7 linked regions of the Homo sapiens genome follow. The protein of the gene in region 5 purifies or fractionates together with the protein of the main gene of each other region. This does not show direct contact. Each region holds a gene or a part of one and is shown on either strand. Other genes may lie near its edges.

Evidence for each region.
Region 1: the proteins of AMACR (region 5) and VWA8 purify together in Homo sapiens (affinity purification with mass spectrometry; one large-scale study listed by BioGRID and IntAct). This does not show direct contact.
Region 2: the proteins of AMACR (region 5) and ALDH18A1 purify together in Homo sapiens (affinity purification with mass spectrometry; one large-scale study listed by BioGRID and IntAct). This does not show direct contact.
Region 3: the proteins of AMACR (region 5) and AARS2 purify together in Homo sapiens (affinity purification with mass spectrometry; one large-scale study listed by BioGRID and IntAct). This does not show direct contact.
Region 4: the proteins of AMACR (region 5) and EARS2 purify together in Homo sapiens (affinity purification with mass spectrometry; one large-scale study listed by BioGRID and IntAct). This does not show direct contact.
Region 6: the proteins of AMACR (region 5) and PCCB purify together in Homo sapiens (affinity purification with mass spectrometry; one large-scale study listed by BioGRID and IntAct). This does not show direct contact.
Region 7: the proteins of AMACR (region 5) and MMUT purify together in Homo sapiens (affinity purification with mass spectrometry; one large-scale study listed by BioGRID and IntAct). This does not show direct contact.

The regions. Positions count from the first base shown.
Region 1 is NC_000013.11:41,688,610-41,692,109, forward strand, and holds part of VWA8 (von Willebrand factor A domain-containing protein 8 isoform a precursor), read right to left. Parts: intron 3,330-3,500; coding exon 3,265-3,329; intron 2,837-3,264; coding exon 2,711-2,836; intron 1,667-2,710; coding exon 1,557-1,666; intron 900-1,556; coding exon 745-899; intron 1-744. UniProt on the Homo sapiens protein: Exhibits ATPase activity in vitro.
Region 2 is NC_000010.11:95,608,577-95,611,711, forward strand, and holds part of ALDH18A1 (delta-1-pyrroline-5-carboxylate synthase), read right to left. Parts: intron 2,867-3,135; coding exon 2,680-2,866; intron 1,717-2,679; coding exon 1,621-1,716; intron 1-1,620. UniProt on the Homo sapiens protein: Bifunctional enzyme that converts glutamate to glutamate 5-semialdehyde, an intermediate in the biosynthesis of proline, ornithine and arginine.
Region 3 is NC_000006.12:44,303,348-44,306,847, forward strand, and holds part of AARS2 (alanine--tRNA ligase, mitochondrial), read right to left. Parts: intron 3,186-3,500; coding exon 3,147-3,185; intron 3,045-3,146; coding exon 2,933-3,044; intron 2,440-2,932; coding exon 2,306-2,439; intron 1,852-2,305; coding exon 1,707-1,851; intron 1,471-1,706; coding exon 1,298-1,470; intron 1,187-1,297; coding exon 1,073-1,186; intron 975-1,072; coding exon 834-974; intron 77-833; coding exon 1-76. UniProt on the Homo sapiens protein: Catalyzes the attachment of alanine to tRNA(Ala) in a two-step reaction: alanine is first activated by ATP to form Ala-AMP and then transferred to the acceptor end of tRNA(Ala). Also edits incorrectly charged tRNA(Ala) via its editing domain.
Region 4 is NC_000016.10:23,550,851-23,554,350, forward strand, and holds part of EARS2 (nondiscriminating glutamyl-tRNA synthetase EARS2, mitochondrial), read right to left. Parts: intron 1,455-3,500; coding exon 1,299-1,454; intron 1-1,298. UniProt on the Homo sapiens protein: Non-discriminating glutamyl-tRNA synthetase that catalyzes aminoacylation of both mitochondrial tRNA(Glu) and tRNA(Gln) and participates in RNA aminoacylation for mitochondrial protein translation.
Region 5 is NC_000005.10:33,998,051-34,001,550, forward strand, and holds part of AMACR (alpha-methylacyl-CoA racemase), read right to left. Parts: intron 778-3,500; coding exon 591-777; intron 1-590. UniProt on the Homo sapiens protein: Catalyzes the interconversion of (R)- and (S)-stereoisomers of alpha-methyl-branched-chain fatty acyl-CoA esters.
Region 6 is NC_000003.12:136,295,340-136,298,839, reverse strand, and holds part of PCCB (propionyl-CoA carboxylase beta chain, mitochondrial isoform 1 precursor), read right to left. Parts: intron 889-3,500; coding exon 768-888; intron 1-767. UniProt on the Homo sapiens protein: This is one of the 2 subunits of the biotin-dependent propionyl-CoA carboxylase (PCC), a mitochondrial enzyme involved in the catabolism of odd chain fatty acids, branched-chain amino acids isoleucine, threonine, methionine, and valine and other metabolites.
Region 7 is NC_000006.12:49,449,754-49,453,253, forward strand, and holds part of MMUT (methylmalonyl-CoA mutase, mitochondrial precursor), read right to left. Parts: intron 1,962-3,500; coding exon 1,713-1,961; intron 1-1,712. UniProt on the Homo sapiens protein: Catalyzes the reversible isomerization of methylmalonyl-CoA (MMCoA) (generated from branched-chain amino acid metabolism and degradation of dietary odd chain fatty acids and cholesterol) to succinyl-CoA (3-carboxypropionyl-CoA), a key intermediate of the tricarboxylic acid cycle.

The sequences.
Region 1 (3,500 bases), on a different chromosome or scaffold from region 5:
CTGCAAAGATATGATAAATCAGAGCAAAACTCAATGGAAAATAAATCTATCTTCATGACTGTTGAAAATTTTAATCTACAATAATGACAATCCAACAAATTTAACTTTACACAGGAACAAAAAACCAAATATCACATGTTCTCACAAGTGGGAGCGAAACATCGAGGACATACGGACACAAAGAAGGGAACAACAGATACTGACACCTACTTGAGGGTGGAGAGTGGGAGGAGGGTGAGGATCAAAAAACTACCTATCAGGTACTATGCTTATTATCTGGATGACCAAACCATCTGTACAACAAACTCCTGTGACATGCAATTTACCTATATAACAAACCTGCACACGTACACTTGAACCTAAAATAAAAGTTAATAAATAAATATATAGAATGTGTAGATGGAAAAATAATTAACTTTAAAAAATTATAGAAGACATGACAGAAAATTACCATCAGAAGGTTAAGCATTTAAACTGTATTACATGAACCCCCACATATGGAGAATACTCATTTCCCCCTACTAAATTCTATCATTGCATTACGCTTTCAATGTTAATTTTTGAAGTGTAATGAAACTATTTAGGTATAACATATTTTCTACTGACTGATTTGGAAGGAAGACTTGATCCAACATGTTTACCAGGAAATTATGTTTTTAATTACCCCTCAAACAGGCTTACAGATTATAGGTCAAACTAAGGGAAAGAAACATTTATCCGATAATTTAAAAAATGGGTGCTTACCATGAGATCTGGAAAACCAACAACTATTGTAGCATAATTTTTCTCATCTGAGAGAATTCTGTTGGGAGAGGCAATCTTTTGTTCCACAGCTGAACTTAGATGTTCAGATGATAGTTGATCACTGGAAATTTTATGAGGTATGCTGAACTCTGTTTCTGAAAAGTACAAACATTAGACACCATATGCTCCTGAAATGCTCCAGGAATTAATTTTTTGCAAGATTTTATTCTCAACAAGTCAAATGGAAAAGAACAAGTTAAAAAAGAGAAAACATTTTAAATTACATTCATGGGCTTTTGTTTGAAAAAATGCTGTTTTTATAATCAAGGCATCTTCCCAAAGTGATTTCAAGTATTTACAGAATTCAAAATTTTATTAGGAATAAATATTATAATTAATAGCTCCCTGTAGAAAAGATGTAAAAACTGACCCAACCAAGGGTTGGCAATGGTATGTTTTAGATTTTTTTCGTAAGTACTATTCATCCCCCAAAACTGTGATAAATTAAATAGAAATCCCAATAGTCTGCAGAAAAAAGATGTTATCCTAAATTAGACTTGCAACCTAAATGTATATAAAAATACTGATCTGTCAGTTAAAAAAATTCAAGGACAGAGCTTACAACAGTGAACTTCCTTATGACAATTTGAGATACTAGATTCTTATTTACTATTTCTGGTGTAGTGACTAAGTTTTTTCTTTTGGTGTAAACTTAACATAGGCTGGTGTTTTGTTCTTAAATGATTCTAGAAGACAGTATATGTACAAGCATGCACTCACACAGCCATAAACACAGATGACATAGTATTTACCTTGTGTAACTCCAAACCCTGTGCTGGGCGGCTCCTCTTTCAGCACATACAACTGGCAAACCCCACTACCCTCAGATTCGATGTGTGCAGGCTTAGTTAAAAGATATTTCCTGCAAACAAACAAAACATCTAGCTTAAGTGAAATTTTTCTTTTTCTAATAGTAATAAGGCCAGACTAAGAAAAATTAGATTCTCCTCAGTCTCTTTTTTATAGTTCCAGTATAATTTGCAGTTTTAGAGTTTCATCATGAATTAACAAATAACTTCTCAACACTGTGTTAAAGAGCAGTGCACAACAGCAATACAGTAATGAATGTGAGGCAAAAATCCAATGCTTCCTATAAGAGAAAGGGTTGTGGGGAGGGGAAGCAACTCTAATGGGGTGCACTCTTATTATCATGTAACCCTCTCTTGATAAAACTCTTTGATCAGCCAGGAAGGGGGAGTATGACTTCTGATTTGTGATCAGCTAGGAGATAGATGCCCTCACAACTGTAGTCTCCTTGATCTACTTATTTTTAACATTTCTAAAATATGGATGTATATATAGGCAGAAATCCTCTGCAATGAGATACTTCTGCTTGTCAGCAGAGGGGCAGAAAGAGTCTGCACTTAGCTAGTGGAGTTGTGCATGAGGGAAGGTGCTCAAAGTCGACACCGCCTTTCATCAAGAACTGCACAGTCCAATGGGTCAGATAACATAAACATAAACATAACCACATCCAAACCAGAATACACAAGATAAAAAGAGAAAGACACTTCTAAGGTGTGAACTCTGTGAATTTACAAAGAGGCAACAGCTCTAGGATAGAGACTGTGGCTCTTTGAAGGGAAAATCTACTTTGAAGTGTCTCCAGTTTAGCAAGAATACAGTGAATTCTCAATGTACAAATAGGAAAAAGCCCAAATAAATATGGATCATATGAAAAAGTCATGATTTTTTAACTGTTAATTTCAATGTCATTTTCTGAGAAGTGACATTTATTTTTTCTCCCCTCCTCAATTCTTATAAGTCTCATATATAGAGATGCTGCCAAACACAGAAATTGTTAAAGGACAGACACAGGAAAGACAGAACAGTAAAGATGTTGGATAATTCATAAATAAGATTGAGCTACAACATACTCCATGATACACTATATAAAGCCACTCACTGATTTGTTTTGCTCTCCACCAGAAGCCATTTGTCCTCTGCTACAAGGAAAACTGTCTTGAGGTTGATGGGAAGTGAGATGGTGTGAGTTCGCCCTTCTAGAACATCCAGCACAGTCAGGCTGTTCCTGGAAAAGAAGAAAACTGTATCTGAAAGGAAATGGTGAGGATAATGGTTGAGTAATCTGGCATAATCATTTCATGATACATTATGCAACCCATAAAAAGAATGTTTTAAGATTAAGTAATAATATAGAAAAATGTTAATTAAAAAAACAGATATGCAAAATTCTAAACTATGTCAGGGTGTGTATAAGTAAAAATAATGGAAAGTAGTAACCATTGCCATGTTAGTAGTGGCTATGTCATGGAATTGTGAGCACTAGCTTTTCTTATATCTGTTTCTCAATATTCTGCAATGTGGGCAAGTTACTTTATATTAAAACATTCATAATTTGGTTACATTCACTTTATAGTAAACAAGTATAATCAAAATAGGAAATAGAATGGGCCAAATAAGAACTCCAGTTTAAATCCTCTATAATAAAGAGCTCACCCTTTTTCTTTGTAGAACACCAGCCAGTTTTTGTGTGAAAATTCTTTACACATTTTATAAGTTTCCTAAAGACAAACAAAACAAGATATTCATATTAAATGTGTCAGATACAGTCATGTCCCTCTTTAGCTACTTCCCCTTAAATAAAATAAAGTTCTTCAACTAGTAAAACATGTAATTCTCAAACAAGCTATCTATTTATCTGCTCTAAGACTCTTATGGTAAAATGGATTAAA
Region 2 (3,135 bases), on a different chromosome or scaffold from region 5:
CTGCAGCCTCGAACTCCTGGGCTCAAGGGATCCTCTTGCCTCAGCCTCCTGAGTAACTGGGACTACAGGCTCACGCCACCACACCTGGATAATTTTTTCATCTCTGTAGAGAGGAGGTCTCGCTGCGTTGCCCAGGCTGGTCTCGAACTCCCCGACTCATGAGATCCTCCTGCTTCAGCCTCTCAAAGTGCCGGGATTACAGGTGTGAGCCACTGCCCGTGGCCTAAAATGTTTTGAGTGGTTGAAATAATTCTCAAATATTCAGAAAACGTGTCATAAATGTATTATTGGAGGTTTTTTGTCTGTTTTGTTTTTTGAGATGGAGTTTAGCTCTTGTTGCCCAGGCTAGAGCGCAATGGTGCGGTCTCGGCTCACTGCAACCTCTGCCTCCCAGGTTCAAGCGATTCTCCTGCCTCAGCCTCCCGAGTAGCTGGGATTACAGGCAAGTGCCACCATGCTCAGCTAATTTTGTATTTTTAGTAGAGATGGGGTTTCTCTATGTTGGTCACGCTGATCTCCAACTCCCGGCCTCAGGTGATCTGCCCGCCTTGGCCTCCCAAAGTGCTGGAATTATAGGCGTGAGCCACTGCGCCCGTTCTGGAGTTTTATATACTGGTACCCCTGAAAACGAGAGACTGTCCAAATAACCCCAACACGACAGAGGGCTGGAAATTTTATACCTAATGGAAAGGGACAGAAGTGCCCTTCTGAAGCTTTTTATTTCAAGGTCTGCTGTAGAAGGTAACCTTGTACTTCTGGCTGGCCTGTTTGTTTTGATGCTGGTACTTAGGCCCACGGCACCTTCTTTTGTCCTACCATTGTGGGGTTTCCTATCTCCGAGGCAACCTGGCTGTGCCATTTTGACGAAATAAGTCTGTAAAAGGAGTGCTCTCAAGGGACACAGCATGTACCTCTGGCGCAGCCTGTGTAAAAAGGCAGGCTGTGGTTGCCCACGCTGTAGCGGGAGAACCCAGGCTTTGGACTTGCTCAAGTTTGGGTCTGAATGCCAGCTGTGGGACTTTGGGCAAGTTACTATACTTCTCTGAATCTCATTCTCCCTCTTTGAAAAATGAATACAAGTACCTGCCTTCTTAGCATGTGAAATGCTTAGAAGATAGGCCTTCCACCAACTCATGGGAGGTTTCATTAATTATTCTCCCTGATAATCCTACCTTGCCAGAAGTCTGTCTCTATTTTTTTTTTTTTTTTGAGATGGTGTCTCACTCTGTCCTCCAGGCTGGAGTGCTGTAGCGTAATCTCGGGCTCACCGCAACCTCTGCCTCCCGGGTTCAAGCAATTCTCCTGCCTCAGCCTCCTGAGTAGCTGGGATTACAGGCATGCACCACCACACCTGGCTAATTTTTTGCATTTTTAGTAGAGACAGGGTTTCACCATGTTGGCCACGCTGGTCTCGAACTCCTGACCTCAGGTGATCCACCCACCTCGGCCTCCCAAAGTGCTGGGATTACAGGCGTGAGCCACGGCACCCAGCCTGTTTCTCTCTTATCTTGACCAAGCATGTGACAGTCAAGGGGAGGTGTCTTTCCCACCTCAACATACCCCTAGACCACACAGTGCTTCACAAGGAACTTCTTTCTTCCCAACCAGAGTCTTTCTTACCCAGTCCAAAGCGGTAACCATCAGAAAAGCGAGTGCTGGCATTCCAGAACACACAGGCACTGTCTACGTGCTGCAGGAAGAACTCCGCTGTGTTTTCTGCAGGGTGAAGAAGGAGAAACCAAGTTAGGATGATACCCAGAGAACATCCCTGTTTCCAGCCATTGACTGGTGACAGATCAGGGCAGGGTCTGGGTCCCCACTGGGGCCTCTCCATGTGTTCTCACGTATTAAATACTCAGGCTTATGAAAAATCTCAACAGGAAGAAGACAAGTTAGCTTCATCAATCACGGTGTTGTGGAAAGACTGAGTTGGAATCCAGATCTCCCATGCAGGTGACCTGCCTAAACTTCCTACTTATGGGCTCCAGAGCCAGACTTCCTAGGCCTGAACTCCAGCTGTACACCTGCTAGCTTTGTGACCTTCTGCAGGTGTACAAAACTCTCTGTGTCTGGGTCAAAAGGGACTTACAACATGACCTAGCTGATAGGGTTGTAGAGAGGATGAAACACCTGGGGAGTACTCATGCTAGTGCCTAGCACACAGTGAGTGCTTGGTAAATGTTGGCTGTTAATACGGGTGGTACTGCTCTGGTGCCCTAATTAGCTGACTGTAAATTCCTCATTGGGGCCCTACTGGCATCCTCCACCATTGAGGCTCCAGTATCTGACACCCAGGAGTGTCCCTGCATACATATTTGTGGAATAAATGAATGAATGAATGAATGTGCAGAGTTGGTTCTGCCTTGGTTTCCTCAGCTGTAAAATGGGTTTATTTTAACTACCTTGTAAGATTTGCTGCACGCATTAAATGATAGTGCCTCTGACAGGGTTAGTCATCTTCGAAGCAGAGCTAATCATCCCTGCCCCTCCTCCTCCAGCTGTGACAATATAATAAAGTGATGTGAAAGCACTCATCAAAGTACCAAATGCAACCACTACTAAACATTACCATAAGCCTACTCAAATGATGTTTTTCTGCAGCCCAAGGGGGGCTAAGAGGAGCAGGATCAGAAAGCAGCAAAGGCAGACACTGTATGCGGGAAGCATCTGGACACTGACCGTCCTCTGTGACGATGACATCCGTGTGGGAGCTGCCATACTTGTGGATGTGGTCAATGGCATCCTGAACGTTGTCCACTACTTCAATGCATAATTCCAGGTCCCCATACTCAGTTCGGAGTGACTTCACTTCGGAGGGGCTGAAGGTCAGATAGGAGGCAAATTTGGGGCCTGCATGAATTTTTACCTGGAACAGAGGAAGTCCAGGGGCAACAACATAAAAACAACTGAAATAAGCAAGTTCTAGGATAGAACAGAAAGGTGAGCCTGTAAAACCACAGCCCAAAGTGGCTCCTGTAGCCTCAACAACTGAACTAGTCCTACTTTCCTCCCTCCAGCATGATCTGACTGGCCACTTGCCAGCAATGGGCCCTCAAGACAGTTGGAACAGGGATTGAAGCAGGAAGCCTTGAACGTTAAGGATGTGCAAGGTGGGCCGGGCATGGTGGCTCACGC
Region 3 (3,500 bases), on a different chromosome or scaffold from region 5:
ACACAGCCTCATCCTGCCCCACGGCCTCCTGCACAGTGTTCTCCACTGCCCGGAGCTGCTCTGGGGTCAATGGGGTCTGGAGGGGTGGGGAGGAAATGGAAAGACCAACATGCAGTCAGCCCCACACCTCTAACTGATGCATTGAAACACGGTCAATGTTCACTGAGCTATCCCCAGGTTCTAGAATAGTGGCTAGCACATAATAGGTGCTCAATAAACACTACCTGAGCAGACAATTATTTTCCTTAGAAAGCTATCTGGGAGTTGGGCCTATTGGAAGCTCCAGGCCTTTCACCAGGCACCAAAAGTTAAAGAAACAGAAAAAGGAGGCTGTATCCACATGGAGCTTACAAGGGGTAGCCCAATGGAAGAGAGAACTACAGGATGGGGGGATGCAGGGGCAGGGAATAAGCAGGTGGGATGGGGATTAGCCAGCAAGTACTTCCTGGAGAAAGGATTTAAGCCAGATGTGTAAGAAGCGCAGGGAGACAGGGTGGCAGCAGAGGGAGAGGGCAGCCCAGTTTAGGCAAGAATGGCTTGGATGACAGTAGAAACAAGGAAGGGGAGCGGCTGGAGGTGAAGGGAAGGCCCCTGCTGGAGGGCCTTCAGGATCCCACATCAGAGCTGGGCGAGGCCCCAGACACTCTGTAGCCTGACTCCTCACTGCTGCACAAGGAGCCCAAGGGGAAAGGACTTGCCCAGGGTCCCATAGTGATTGGGTGGCCGTGCTGGGCCTAGAGCCCAGGACTCTAAGGGCAACCCGCTCACAGCAGGCTGTCTCTCTTTTATGCCTGTCACCTCACATGAAGCCTGTCTTTCTATGCCGGGCTCACCTGGGTGGTCACATCCAAGCGCAGCTGCTCAGGATTGAGATGGGAGCCCTGCTGCTCTGTGCCAGGGCCCAGGGTCTGCCTCAGTGCCCAGTTCAGCAGGTGGGTGGCCGTATGCTTCGCCATGCAGCCTAGACGCCAGGCCTGAAATACTTTTGTCACCCAGCGTCCTGGGTGAGGGCAGGGGGTTGGGAGAGTGAAGGGGCTGCAGGGTATTGGGAACAGTTAGGGAGGATCCTTACCTCATCCACATGCAGCTGCACCTGGTCCCCTAACCGCAGGCACTCAGGGGCTACTGCCTCATGCAGGATGAAACCTCCACAGACCTGGGCCCGGGCTACTGGGAACAGCACGTCCTGAGGGAGGGTAGTGGTCAAGGTGCCTGTAGCCTTTCCCTCCCCTTGGCTCCCACTCAGGCTTGGGTCTGCCGCCCACAGAAATCAGCCTGGGTTGTGATGGAGACTCACCTCTTGCCCTGCCCGCACCAGGTAGCCACGGTCTGAAGCCTGGCCCCCCTGTTCTGCGTAGAAGTTGGTCCTGTCCAAGAGGAGGCCACAGCGCTGGCCTTTCCCCACGGAGGCCACTGCTGTCCCGTCCTCTGTATACAGTTGCAACACCTGGGCCTCACAGGTGCCGAACTCTGCCAGGGCACAGAATGGTTATTAGTGGTGGGCAGGGGCTGGGGACGTGAAGGTGGGTCTGTGCCTGGAGGCCAACAAGCACCCCCGCTGGCAGGGGCACTTCCAGCTGGGGGCCACAGAGACCCCTGGTGGCCATCCTGGGGAATACATAGGGGCTAGCAGCAACCATCTTGGACATTCTTCTTAGTCATGGTCAGGCAAGCTTGTGGCGGCAGGCCTTGGTCCAGGCTCTCACCATAACTTCCGCTGGGTCGCAGGGAGTAGTTGTACTTGGGGCTGTCGTCAGTTGGGGGCACTCCTTGGCGCTGCAGCTCCCCAAGCGCATGGACATCAAGCCACAATCCCTGCTTCTGAACTGGCTCAGCCTGCCGTGCCCGGTGCTGCAGGGTGGGCATGGGCATGGAAGAAGTGCATGGAGAATGAAAGAATGAAAGTGGGACTTCAGCCTCGCAGGGCCCTGTCCCTGCCACACAGCTGTGGACTCTGCAGCCCTTCTGGAATAAGAACTCAGGGCTTGGCTGGCTGCTAGAGCCCCTGAGCTGGTTGAACCATCCATCATGTCGGCTCCTCGGGATTAGGCCTTCCTGCCCACTGCTGCCCCTGGAGGGCCCCTCTCCAGGAAGCTGTGCTGGCTTCTGCTCCTGTGTTTAGCCCATTGGCTAGTTTTGCTTTCTACTGGTTGTGGCCTGAGGTTTTAGAAACCTCCCAGGTGAGGGGACAGATCCTATCTCAGCCTCTTGATTCCTCTCAATATTCACAGCTCCTCCCCCAGGAGCTCAGGGCTGGGGAAGAGGTGTCCTAACAGAACCCAGCATGGGGTGCCACAGCTTGTACCTGGGCCTCCTCTTGGGCCAACCGCTCCAGTCCAGCGGAGTCTAGCTGGACCCCTTTCTCCTCCAGCATCAGCTCTACCATGTCCAAGGGGAGTCCCAGGTCTCCACACAGTGACAAGGACCAGGCCACTTCAGCTTTGAGAAAGAAAGACAAAGAATGTTGAGGAGGGGAGGGATTAGACAAAGAAGGGGAGAAAAATAAGGTCCAGGGCCCTTCTAACCACGCAGAAGCCACCAGATGCCAAACACAAATACCCGCTCCATACTGGGTAGCCTCAGGAGAGGGGTCACATTCAGGCTTCATGCCTCAAGGCCAGAGCTGGGGGTAGTCCAGGGTACTCCCTGGGCACACATCATTTCAAGGGAGGAGGGAAGCTCAGTCTATGCACGAAGCCAACCTAGGAAAGCAGGAGGCAGGGCTAGCTGGGCACTGTGGACATGGGGAGAGGCAGGGTGGTATTCCTGCTGCAGAGGGGTCTGGGTATGGAAGGAGAGTCCAGGGAGAAAGGAACATTGGGAAGAGGTCAGGGGTGGATATGAGGCATGGGGCTGGCCCAGAGCTCCCTCCTCTGCCCACCTTGGTGAGTCTCAGCGAGCCCCTTGTGCATGGGCTAGGTATCCTGCTTACCAGGGAACATATCTGAAGGCCCCAGGGTCCTCAGAGTCCGATCAATGATCCGCCTACCCCGCTCCAGGGAGGCCAGGAAGGCTGCCTCGTCCTCTGACACCAGGTTGGCGATCTGAACCAGGCAGAGAAGAAGTGGAGCTGGGTCTCCTTGGAAGGAGGGTCTCTCTCCACAACTCTCCCATCAACCCCTTTCTCTCCCACTGGAATCCAGTACCTGGGCTGAGTTCCTTTGCAGTTCTGGATAAGCATCTCCCTGGGGGAGGTGGAGAGGGCTGAGGAGGTGTGAAAGGCAACCAACCCACCCCCACCTCCCCACCCTGGGCCTCCCTGAGGACACCTGCCCTGGAGGCTCAGACACATTGAGGGGCTGGGAGAGGGACTCAAATGGGGAACTGGTTTCCCTGTAGGGTGGCAGAAGGGGGTCCTGAGGTCAAGGGCTGAGCAGTTTGGAAAAGGAGCCTCCTCAAGTTCTCCTGCTTCTTGTAAGCAAGGACAGCTTTCTTAGCTTGCTGATAGGATGCTGGGCTCGATATTTAGGGTGGGGACCTCTGGGCACCCAGGCTGGGGG
Region 4 (3,500 bases), on a different chromosome or scaffold from region 5:
CTAGCAGAGTCTTGGTATTTTTCCTTGGGAATCTCCCCTTTCCTAGTCACACCCGTCCATACAGGTAGACAACTGTCGACCCATGAAAAGGAAACACACTCCTCTTTGTTCTCCCTGACCTTAGCTGTCCTCAGGATAAAACTTCCCACAAGATCAACTTCAGAAGCTGTACGTGTTTTGTGTGGCTTATACAACATGGTTAAAAAAAATCTGAGCCCAGATTTAATAATGGTTAAGTATTCATCCAGAAAAACTGGATTTCTGGCTCCTCTTGCAACTCAGAGGATTGGACAAGCTGGGCCAGCATTCCCGCATGGGCACAAGGAGCTGGAGCTCAGAGGCACTCCCAACTCTGGATGAGGTGTGGTTTTCACAGCTCAGCACTGGCCCAGCTCCTCCAGTTCCCACTTGGCCCTGTGTTTCCTGCCTGGCCCCTGTAGGGAATGAACTTGAGATTCTGAGGTGAAAACAGGAATCTCAAAACAGCCTTGGCAGTGGCTCACACCTGTAATCCCAGCTCTTTGGGAGGCTGTAGCAGGAGGATTGCTTGAGCCCAGGAGTTTGAGAATAGCTTGGGCAACACAGTGAGATCTCATCTCTACAAAAAAATTAAAAATTAGCCAGGCGTGGTGGTGCGTGCCTGTAGTCCCAACTACTTGGGAGGCTAAGGTGGAGGATCACTTGAGCCCAGGTCGAGGCTACAGTAAGTTATGATTGTGCCATGGAACTCTAGCCTGGGTAACAAAATGAGACCCTGACTCTAAAAAATTAAAAAATAAAGAAACCAAGTTGGGCGCGGTGGCTCATGCCTATAATCCCAGCACTTTGGGAGGTCGAGGCAGGTGGATCACGAGGTCAGGAGGTCAAGATCATCCTTGCTAACACAGTGAAACCCCGTCTCTACTAAAAATACAAAAAAACTTAGCCGGGCGTGGTGGCGGGCGCCTGTAGTTCCAGCTACTTGGAGGCTGAGGCAGAAGAATGGCGTGAACCCGGAAGGCGGAGCTTGCAGTGAGCCGAGATCGCACCACTGCACTCCAGCCTGGGCAACAGAGCAAGACTCTGTCTCAAAAACAATAAATAAATAAAAATAAAGAAACCAGTCTTGGAGCTGTGTTTCAGAGAGCTTCGGCATTTTTTCAGGTGTCATCTGCCACCCCGGGCAGGGCAGTACAAATGTAGCCACTTCTCCAGGAACTCCCCATTTTCCACTCAGAACTCCATGAGAAGACCCACAGGCTCCTTTTCCTGCTTCCTGTTCCTTCCCTGCAGAAAGATCCTTTCTCTGCCAGGCTTACCTGCCCACTCCAGCATGTCCTCAATATTCTCCGCTGCCCCAGGCACAACGCGAGTCTGATCTGTGTCCTCTAGCCTCAGGATGAAGCTCCCCTGGTACTTCTTAGCAAAGATGTAGTTGTACAAGGCAGTGCGGAGGCCACCCAGGTGCAAGAAGCCTGGAGAAGAGAACAGCTCAGATAAGACAGGGAAGATAAGCTAATAGGCCTCAGCAAGGGGCAAGTAAGCACTACTGTGACAGAATGTTGCAATAAATTTAAAAGACCAGCAGGACACATTGGCTCACGCCTGTAATCCTACCACTTTGGGAGGCCAAGGCCGGGGGGATCACTTGAGCCCAGGAGGTTCCTGTAGGTTTTTTAAGACAAGAGTCTCACTCTGTCACCCAAGCTGGAGTGCAGTGGCACAGTCTTGGCTCACTGCAACCTCTGCCTCTTGTGTTTAAGCAATTCTCATGCCCAGCCTCCCGAGTAGCTGGGATTACAGGTGTGTGCCACCACGTCCAGCTACATGTTTGTATTTTTGGTAGAGACAGGCATTCGCCATGTTGGCAAGGCTGGTCTTGAACTCCTGGCCTCAAGTGATCCCCCCAGCCTCGGCCTCCCAAGTGCTGGGATCACAGGCAAGAGCCATCACACCTGGCCAATTTTTGTATTTTTAGTAAAGATAGGATTTTGCCATGGTGGTCAGGCTGATCTCGAACTCCTGACCTCAAGTGATCCATCTGCCTTGGCTTCCCAAAGTGCTGGGATTACAAGCGTGAGCCATTGTGCTTGGCCTGAGTTTGAGATCTGCCTGGGCAACATGGTGAGACCTTGTCTTAGCAAAAAATATAAAAATTTAGCTGGGCATGGTGGTACATGCCTGTGGTTTCAGTTACTGAGGTGGGAGGATCACCTGAGCCTGGGGACGCTGAGGCTGCAGCGAGCCATGATCACGCCTCTGCACTCCAGCCTGGGCAGCAGTAGAGTGAGACTCTGTCTCAAACAAAAAAAATTAAAAATTAAAAAATTTTTTTTCAAAGACTAAGAACTAGTTACCCCTGTGCCCTGTCTCCAGACACATTTAATCCCTCATCCTGAAAATGGAAACCACCCAGGATTTGGAGCATGTCATTTTATTAAAAGGCTCCAATTTTCCCCAACTGCATCCACCACTCTATTTTGATATTTGTCTCAAGGCCAAGTTTCGCCTGAAAGAGAAGCAGAGAGTTATTCATTGAGGCCATATCATGTACATTTAACTTACAGAAATTCAATGATGTGCGCTGGGAAAAAAATTAATTACAAACAAACTAGAAATTTAAAATACTGTACAATCATATTGTGGGCCAGGTGCAGTAGCTCACACCTCTAATCCCAGCACTTTTGGAGGCAGAGGCACGAGGATCACCTGGGTCTCTAAATTTGAGACCAGCCTGGGCAACATTGTGAGATCCTGTCTCTACAAAGAAAAAAAAAATCGGTGGGGCATGGTGGCTCACACCTTTAATCCCAGCACTTTGGGAGGCCGAGGCGGGTGGATCACAAAGTCAGGAGTTTGAGGCCAGCCTGGCCAACATGTTGAAACCCCGTCTCTACTAAAAATACCACAAAAAAAATTAGCTGGGCATGGTGGTGGGCGCCTGTAATCCCAGCTACTTGGGAGGTTGAGGCAGGAGAACTGCTTGAACCCAGGAGACAGAGGTTGCAGTGAGCCGAGATCGCACCATTGCACTCCAGCCTGGGCGACAGGGCGAGACTCCATCTCCAAAAAAAAAAAAAAAATCACATTTTGCATATGCAGTCTATGCAGTGTGCATGACTGTCCACGTCGTACATTTTAAATTTCATCTACTTGAGATTTTTACTTTTTTAAAGAAACAAAATTCATTTTTGAAATTTGAGATGGGGTCTCACTCTTGCCCAGGCTGAAGTCCAGTGGTACAGTCACGGCTCACTGCAGCCTCAACCACCCAGGCTCAATCAATCCTCCCACGTCAGCCTCCCAAGTAGCTGGAACTACAAGTGTACACCACCATGCCCGGCTAATATTTGTTTTTTGGTTTTTTTTTTGCAGAGGCAAGGTCTCACTATGTTGCCCAGGCTGGTCTCAAACTCCTGGGCTCAAGCAATCCTTACACTTCAGCCTCCCAAAGTGCTGGGATTACTGGCATGAGCCACCATGCCTTGCCAAGATTTTCACCCTAATTGCTGGCTTTAAAC
Region 5 (3,500 bases):
GGAACAAAACGACTCCCATCCAATTATTTAATTAGGGAAGAAGAGATCCCAAATTTTCTTGCTAATTTATGACAACTTGCCAAGCAGGCAAGAATCTGCAAGACAGGTCATCTGCAAAGGCATAGTGATATAGTAACATATTCTAACAGAATCTCATTTGGCAAAATCTTTCCATGCTCTGGTGACTTCTGACATTGAAGTGCCATAAGGGACATCTACCAAGAAATAGGAGCTGGTAGAATATTGAATGGAAAGCAACCCATGTGAGATCATTTCTAGGGAAGAGTAAGATCTGGGCACACAGGGTCAAGATTATCCAACACAAGGAGTGAACTGTAATAAAAGCACCGAACATCCTACAAAAGGGATTATTATTTTTAAAACCCTCAGCTATTTTATAGACTAGTAAGACTGCTGGTCAATTTAAAAGCCATGGAAAATGCCCCACATTATATTGATGGCTATAATTAGGTTAATTAGAAAGTGGCTATATAATAAAAGACATCCTAGATGCCAAAAGTCTTTAAAATAGAACCAAAGAACATCCACAGCAAAAGGGGAACTGGGGGAGACGCGTGAAGTTCACTTACCTTTGATCAGCAGCTCGTAGAACTGGGGTTCTATTGCTCCAACAGCCATGAATTCCCCATCTGCTGTCCTGTAAGTCGTATAGAAAGGTGCTCCACCATCCAACATGTTCTGTCCTCGAGGTGCTTCCCACAGACTCAATTTCTGAGTTTTCCACAGAAAAGAACTTAAATATGCTGTTCCTTCCACCTTTGAGAAAACAGAATACAAGACAAATCCAGATAACTCAAGTGTCAAAGCATGAATAATTCCTCCCATTCAAGTTAAAAAAAATTTGCGTAAAAATTCTTATCTTAGAGTATACGAAGATTCTACCTAATTACACAACTTCTCTGGTATTTCCAGAAAGTGAGTTAGAGCAGTTTGTGTTAAAATAACAATTGGCTGCACTATTCAGTTCCAAAAATACTATAAGACTTAGAAGAAATGACCTTTGCTTTCCATTTCAAATAAGATTGGCAAAATGCTAGTGATTTAGCTAGGTGAGGGTACATGGAAGGTCACTATACTATTCTCTCTACTTTTTATAATGTTAAAAACTGCCAAGATAAAAAGTTAAAAATTAAAAGAGCTTTTAAAAATCCATCTTCTGATCTCCATACCTATAAACACACACAGATGTATAAACCATACCACATTTTAAAGGTAAATCACATAAGAGTAAAATTTGGCTTATTCTGGCTTGATTCCAATCCCAAGAAAACTGTATTTGAGTATTTAATGTATTTCATAATCACTAGAAAGTTATAAAATAAACTAACAATATGGATGGCAGGTATGTGCATTTTCTGAGTCCAGGCAAACTGGTTTGGGAATGCCACCTTCCCACTGAGTCCTAAAGTCATCTCATCACGCCACCTTCCCACTGAGTCCTGAAGTAATTACACAATAAAGTACAATTATCACAAGGCTCAAACTCAAAGGCTGAAGGCACTGGACTATTTGAAGAAGATGATGTTCTGACCTTTATGCCTTTTATGAGCCTAATGTCTCCAGCACCCCAGGAGGAAGGCCTTCAAAGCATCCTCGTCTCAAAAGCTACCAATAGAGCAGGCCTCATTCCAACTGCTAGCAATTTCTCAGTTACTGACTGTGGAACAACCACAAAATGTATCTTTGGATATATCCAATTTTCCCTCTTAACTTGAAATTTCACGCACATCTGAATTTATGGCTGTGACATTTATTGTCACCAAATAGCTGAGTTCATGCAAGTGGCCTACGGCAGTGCCTTTTTTTGAGGCTGGATTACAGAGATATTAGAGTTCCACATTTATACACATACACACACACACATATATACACATATGCATGTATATGCGCACTATTTTAAATATATTTTATGTTTATGTTATTTAAGCACATATTTAAATGTATCCTATACCAAATTCTGACTCATCAGAGCCTCAACTCATTAACATTTGTTGCTAGACTTTAAAATAAAGCTTTTCCTTCCAATTTTGCATAAATATTACCTTGTATTTGAAACACTATTGAGGAAAACCTTTGTTCTGCATGGTTCTCCTCTCCTCTTAATTTGTGCTGACTCATACAAAACCAACAAGTTAGCACCTTCAATAAGCAAGTGCCTGCTTTCCGCTCAAGCTTTACTTCTCTCAGAGCCTAACGCCGAATCAATAGGGCGGTAATAGATGAACTGGAAGCAAGCTTGTCATACAGTGCAAGAGAGAGTTTTAGCAGAGAGTTCTGAATACTGTTTATCTGGCTTTCATGTTCAGGCCAAAGAATGTGAGAAGTTTTTACACACTGTAGTGAGTCGACCTAGAAACAAAGTATTTTTGTTCTGCTTCATCATAAATGAAATGCAATCTGAAATTTTAAGCAAGTTTTTAAAAATATAGGGTCTTTTTTTTTTTGAAATGGAGTGTCACTCTGTTGCCCAGGTTGGAGTGCAGTGGCACAATCTCAGCTCACCGTAACCTCCACCTCCAAGGTTCAAGCGATTCTCCTGCCTCAGATTCCCGAGTAGCGGGATTACAGGTGCCTACCACACCCAGCTAATTTTTGCGTAAAAACTATGGATATTTTTAACTTATCTCTGTAACTCAGGATTTTCCTAACATCCAGTCAAAATGAAATACAGTAATAAACTGAATACTGAAAGCGATGAGACAATCACCCATAAACTCTAACTTCCAGTGTTTGTGTTTAGCAGAACAGCTTCGTTGGTCTGACAAAATAATATATAAATATTGAATATGTAAACATAAAATGTTTTATGCTAATAAAATACCCCTTTAATCTCTTTTATATGTTGAACGCCCTGATGAGACTGCTGAAAAATAGACGTGTTAACAGAGTTACAGATCCAGTTGGGTCCACTCAGGACAAAAACAAGCTCTGGTCTAATCCTTAGCATCAGAGGAGGTACAGGACAAGAAATACAGCAGGAACCCTCCTCGTCTCATCATAAGGCCTGGCAGTGGCTACCCTGGCACACGGCTTCTCTTGCCCCATCACTCATATACCATGCATGCGAGTGAAGAGCCCCCTGACACAGGGAAACCGCAGCCTCAATTTGCCACCAACCTTTGATACTGTTAAAAGAAAAACTTTAGACGAATTAATTTAAGAGTTTAACTGAGCAACGAATGACTCATGAATTGGGCAGTCTGTGGAACCAGACTAGGTTCAGAGCGACTAGTGTAGCCCTGGGGCCAAAGAGGACTTATGGACGGAAAATGATGTACAGAAAACAGAAGTGAGGTACAGAAACAGCCGGATTGGTTACAAGTGGGCCTTTGCCTTGTTTGAACATGGTTTGAACAGCTGGCCGCCTGTGATTAGTTGAAGTACGGCTGCTGTGATTGGCTGAGACTTGCTGCTTGTTACAAAAGCAGGTTACAGTCTGTTTACACATCCAGTTAGGTCACAGCTCATTATGTAAGAGA
Region 6 (3,500 bases), on a different chromosome or scaffold from region 5:
AAACAATACAATTTCAAATCCCTTCTGCAGAAGAAAGTCCAGGCCAAGTGAGTGCTTATAATTTGGAGAGGAAATAAAATGGAACGGCTAGAGGTGTGGAGCAGTTCCTGGGCAGGGCCTCCACTTTACTCTATGGTGCCTCCACAACAGGTGGTAGACTCCAACAGCAAAAGGAAAGGTCTTCACCAGATGGCCAGCAACACACCCTTCCCCAGGACTGTCCCAGCCTCTGGCTATAAGCAGTATGCATAAACATGTTTCCTAAAGGGCATGCTGTTTGCATCATTTTACATTTATTTATTTCAAAAGGACAACTAGGTAGAGCCCAGGAACCAGTCACTTTAGACAGAAAAAAGCCAGGTATAGTCAGCATAAGAAGAATCATGGCTCTTCCTTTTGTGGGTGAGGGGAAGGAAAGGAAATGGGAGACTTCTTCATGGGGACTAGGCCAGACCAAAAAAAACTTGAATCTCTAATTCTAGATAACTTGAGAGTTTCTTAGAAATCAAAAAATTTTTCTTTAAAACTGTTTTGGGCCACTCTTCACCACCAAGATATACATTAGATATTACAGAGAGGAAAAAGGAAAATAAAATCATCTTTCTTTGCTCCTATAGCCAAACATGACATCATCCCCACACCTGGGAGCCACTCTACCACACTCTGCTGCAACTTGCCCAACAAGGCAGACCCTGGGGGTCCTGTCAGGGCAGAGAAAGGCAAGCTACACTGCAAAATGAGAGAAGGTGCACCGGCCTACAACCCACCTGGGATCGTGGCACTCACGGACGGGAGCCGGGTCCTGACTGCTCAGGGGCAGGTAGTTGAAGAAATCCCGGAGATTACACAAGGCATCAACATCATTTTCAAAAGCTCTGTGGGCCACACCTAAGAGAACAGGGAGCATATATGATTGAGTCAGGGTACCAGCCAGCCCAAAGTTGCTGCTTCATGCCTGACTGCGCCCTTCTAGGGCATGTCAGTAGCAGACCGTGCTGATAGCTCTGTTCTCTGCACCCTCCACTGAGGATGTAATGCCACATAATACATACCTTCCGGGTGATCCTTCAACTCATGCAGCACATGTTCCCTCTGTTCTGCAACCACACCTCTACAGGGGTCACACCTTTCTTTATTCAGGTCCTTGCTCTAATGTCACCTCCATACCCACTCCCAGATCCTTCACTATCCATCCCTATACCATGCGGGAGTTCTCCTCCCGTACTTTTCTCTGCATCACCTATTTCCCTGTTTACTGCCGGACATCTCTCCTGGAATATCAGCTCCAACAGGGTAAGATCAGGCCTGGCCAACATTAAGAATAATGTACCTGGCAAACAGGTGCACAGCAACAGTGGAAGGAAAGGAGGGGAGCCACCTGCCCCTAGTGAGAATCAAGCCATAATTCTTGAAGAGCACTCTGAAATCACAGAGCAGCCAAACAAGGCCATAGGTATGATGGAGAAAGCGGAGCCAAGAACTCTCTCCCCAGGTTCATCCCACCAGACTCCTTTCTTTCACCATTGCCCCTACGGTCTCTTGTCCACAAAGCTGACAGACAGAGCTTTTTAAGTCAGATCGTGTCATGTCTCTACTCCAATGATCCTCCTTGTTCACTGATCGGGCCAGTCACTCTCCTACCGAGAGCCTTTGCATAAGCTGTTCCCCTCTGCCTGCAATGCTCCCCACTTACATATCAATGCAGTTAACTCCTTAAAATCTGCTCAGCTCCTAACCTCAGTGAGGCCTACTGTTACCACCCTATTTGAAACTACAACAATCCCAGTCCCCTTTACCCTGTTATACTTTTTCCATAGCACGTATTGCCTTCTAACATACTGCATAGTGTACTTATTTACAATGTTTATTGTCTATCTCCTCTACTAGAATATAAGCCCCATATGGGCAGGTGTCTTTCTTTTGTTCTGTCCACAGATGTATTCCTAGCACCTAAAACAATGCTTCACACATAGGTACTCGATGAATATTTGTTTTGTTTTGTTTCTTTTTTTACATTTTTATTATTCTATTTTAAATTTTTAATTCCTTTGCTATTTGCCTTTTTCCACATATTCTAAATGAGTATTTGTTGAATAAAAAGCATTTTCAGCATGACAGAATTCTTTCATTCAAAAAATATTTATAAATGGGTACAGCCACTTTGGAAGAGAGTCTGTCAGTTCCTTAAAAGTTAAACATCGAGTTATCATTTAACTCAGAAATCAAAGAGAAATGAAAACATATGTCTACCCAAAAACTTGCATATAAATATTAATACAGGCATATTTATGATAGCCGAAAAGTGGAAATGACCCAGTGTCTATTAACTGGTCAATGAATAAACTAGATGTGGTATATCCACACACTGGAATATTATTCGGCCATAAAAATGAATAAAGTACTGATTCATGATACAACATGGATGAGCCTTTAACAACATTATGCTAAGTAAAAGCAACCAGTTACAAAAGATCACATATTATATGATTCCATTTCTAGGAAATGTCCAGAATGAAAAAATCCACAGAGACAGAAAGTAGCCTGGTAATTGCCTAGAGCAGAAGTATCTGTGGTTGAAATGCAGAGTGACTGCTAATGGGCACAGGGTTTCTTCTTGGGGTGATGACAATGTCCTGAAATTGATTGTGGTAATAATTATCCAACTCTGAATGTATTTTAAAAACCACTGAATTGTACACTATAAATAGGTGTTTAAAATATACGGTATATGAATTACATCTCAATAAAGCTGTTACCACAAAAGAAAAAAGAAAAGAGAGAAAAATATATGTACGGAGCACCTTTTTGTGCCTTGCCCTGGGGATACAGGGCCAAGTGCATCAGACACAGTCCATCAAAGAGCCTCAGGCCCAGAAAGAAAACCACATACTGCCCTACAATCAAAAAACAAACAAAACGTACTTGAGATTGTGCTACAGAAGAAACTTTAATGTCATGGGCAGACATTCATTACTTTAAGCTGTCAAGTAAAAAAAAAAAAAAAACTCAGGTTACATAAGAGTATGTCCATACCTATGTTTGAGTAAGTGTTTGTGTATTCACGCTCATGTGCGTGAAAAGACTGCAAGGGTATAACCAAAAAATCACTAGTGATTATCTGTGGATGATGGAATATCTAGCAGTTTTTATGCTTTGTATGTTTTCTAAGTTTTGTACTACAAACATATAATGCTATTAAAATGGGGAAAAATAAACAGCATATTTCATCAAATCTAAGACACCATCAAGACCCAGCTTTATATTATATACCAGCAAGAAAAACAGGCTGCTGCCAATAAAGCCCTGAGACAATAGCATGGCATCAGGCCGTGCTGGAGTTGATGCTAAGAAGTGTTCTGATTCTAGACATGTCTTAAAGATGGGGCTAAATGATGCTGATAGGTAAGGGAAAGGAATGAGTCAAGATCGATGCCAACCTGACATGGGGAGAAACAATTTTTGTGGGTGGGGGATCAAGAGCCCTAACTTTTTTAAAACTA
Region 7 (3,500 bases), on a different chromosome or scaffold from region 5:
ATATAAATGGATTCTGTACTAATGAAACAAATGAAGATGACATTAATTATAAGGGGGAAATTAGAAAACAAAAATGAGCTCTACGAATCAAAAATATAATACATGAATGTAAAAATAAGTAGAAATATAAAGTTGACAAATCTTTAAGAACACAGAAAAAAAAGGCAAACAGATATACTATAGAAAAGATAAGAGCAGGCAGGGAGCAGTGGCTCATGCCTGTAATCCCAGCTCTTTGGGAGGCCAAGGTGAGTGGATCACGAGGTCAGGAGTTTGAGACCAGCCTGACCAACACGGTGAACCCCCGTCTCCATTAAAAATACAAAAATTATCCGGGTGTGGTGGTGTGTGCCTGTAATCCCAGCTACTCGGGAGGCTGAGACAGGAGAATCGCTTGAACTAGGGAGTCAAAAGTTGCAGTAAGCCGAGATCACGCCACTGCACTCCAGCCTGGTGACAGAGTAAGACTCTGTCTTAAAAAAAAAAAAAAAAAAGATAAGAACATCAGCACATCAGGATATTATTTAAGGAGGTCCGTAGCTTATGACTAGGAGTTCTAGAAAGAGAACCCATATGAAAATGACAAGAAAAATACTGTCAAAGAAATAATACAAGAAAATTTCCTAGAGCTATAAAAATATTTTTTAAAAAAAGGTGAGATGAAAAAGACCCAATAAAGGTTCAGTACCATGTAGGAAAAAATACACCAAGTTATACATCAATACAAAAAATAAAGAAGAGGTCCCAATACTTTCAGAAAGAAAGATCCTGAATGAGAATGGCATCAAATTTCTGATCAGAAATATTGAAAGCCAGAATAAAAATCTAGAATAAAAAACAGATCAATGCTTATAAACTTGCTTATGAATTTCCTGAATGGAAATAATGTCAAGCTTAGTCAGGCTATTAATCAATTATAAAAATAGAATAAAGACATTCCCAAACAGGAAAAGTTTCAAATAATTTATCTCCCATGCACCATTTTTAGCAGGTTTCTATGAGATGTACTTCCAAATAACCAAGAGATAGACATGGGATTCAAGATTCAGAATTAAACAGAGGAGAAATGAAAATATATTCCTACTATAATGGCAAAGAGGAGTCAAAGAACAGCAATAGTGAGCAGAAATAGAGAAAAAACAATTTAAGTCAAATGAGAACATTAGAAGAATTCAGAAAAGATTACATTGAGATATAATTATATTGGTAGTAAGGGAGGAGGAAAAGTAGGGGTATGAATCAGCCAAAATCTAAACTACCCTACTAGGAAAGCAATAGATAGTGTCTAAGGTCTCATGTGTAATGTCTACAGTTGATAAAATTACAAGAAATAGTATACATGTGATTTTAAACTATGCAGATAAAAACAAAAATAAGCAAAGAAGTATGTATCTTACTCCAGGAAGCAGGAAAAAACAAGTGGATGATCAAAAACTGCTGTTCTTTGTATGAGCTTTTTAATACTAGCTGTCTTTTTAATTCTTTTAATAAAATACTTTAATAGAAATGTATTTTTAAATGGATTGTTTTGAAAACTATAAAATCAAATCTGAATTTTTTTTGCAAACATCGTTTAAATTATTATATAAATCTGTAAGTGATTTGATTTATAAATTTAAAATCTATAAATCTTGACTTGTAAGTTTTAAAATCTATAAATCTTTACAAATCTGTAAATTCTGAAAACAAAGTTGCAAAGTGGAAAAACTTACCTTTAAAGCAGCATCATAAACATCATTTGTGAGACATTCCATCATGTAAGAACCTCCCCAAGGATCAGCCACTTTGGGAATCCCAGATTCTTCTTGAATGATGATTTGTGTGTTCCTGGCAATTCGAGCACTTTTCACAGTTGGCAAACCCAAAGCTTCATCAAAAGAATTTGTGTGCAAAGACTGAGTCCCTCCAAATACTGCTGCCATTGCTTCTATTGCAGTACGGACAATATTATTGTAGGGATCCTAAAATATTTGATAAAAAACAAAAACTCAAAGAAACAGGTGATAGATATTGCAACTATAAACAGCAACATGATTAAACAGCAACTGCTGCATATTTTCTATGTCAATTTCCATATTAAGCTTCAGAATAGCAAATAAATTCAGACAAATTAGTTTAGAAGCCAAAATTAGAAGAGTCAGAGTTCAGTGTTTAGTGCCTCTTATAATCCTCTGAAATATCAGATATTGTTGTGCTTACTTTTATATTGCCTAAATACTTTTCTATAAGTATATCAACAATGCATTCTTTTTCTACTTAAGATTATATAGTCCTTCATTTCATAATTCACTCTTTGCTGATTATTTTGTCTACCTCACAGTATCTACCACAATGATGTGTACAAAACAGGCACTGAATAAATGTTAATAAAATAGATGAACAATGAACTGAGATATCAGAAATTTGAGTTCTAGTTTATTGCATGCCTAATTGTGATTTGGGCAAGTCATTGGATCTCTCTGAACTTCAGTTTCTTTAGCTGAAAAAATAAGCAGGTTAAAATAAAAATGATTATTAAAGTTCCTTCCAACCCTAAAAATCTCTTATTTCTCCATGTATTTATTTATTTATTTTTATTTTATTTATTTATTTATTTTGAGACGGAGTCTCGCTCTGTTGCCCAGGCTGGAGTGCAGTGGCGCAATCTCGGCTCACTGTAAGCTCTGCCTCCCGGGTTCACTCCAATCTCTTGCCTCAGCCTCCTGAGTAGCTGGGACTATAGGTGCCTGCCAACACACCTGGCTAATTTTTTTGTATTTTTAGTAGAGACGGGGTTTCACCATGTTAGCCAGGATGATCTTGATCTCCTGACCTTGTGATCTGCCCGCCTTGGCCTCCCAAAGTGCTGGGATTTACAGGCGTGAGCCACTGTGCCAGGTCTATTTCTCCATTTATAAGAACCTGAAGTTTTATTTCATACAGAGTATAATAGTTATTATTCAACATTTAAATGTATAAAAGCAATGTAACTTTGCACATATAAATTATTTTTAAATGTACCAAAATAATTTCATATGTAAAGAGAACATGTATAAAAACAAGGCCATAACTATACAATTTTTAAGAGAACAAATTAAATTACCCAAGTAAAAACAGTCTTTAAACAGTCTGCTTGCATGCTTGCTTAAATACATAACTTTAACACATAAAATATGTATGTATATATAATTAATTTTAAATAGGCAGTTTTATGTTAAGAATTATAACTCTTACAATTATATGAGAGTACTAACTTATGACTTTTGCTTCCTTCTCATCATCAAATTCTGTTTTCTTTCTTTCTTTGTTTTTTTTTTTTTTTTTTTTAGACGTAGTTGTGCTCTTGTTGCCCAGGCTGGAGTGCAGTGGCGTCATCTTGGCTCACTGCAACCTCCGATTCCCAGGTTCAAGTGATTCTCCTACGTCAGCTTCCCAAGTAGCTGGGATTATAGGCATGCACCACCACGCCCAACTAATTTTGTATTTTTAGTAGAGGTAGGTTTTTGCCAGGTTGGCCAGGC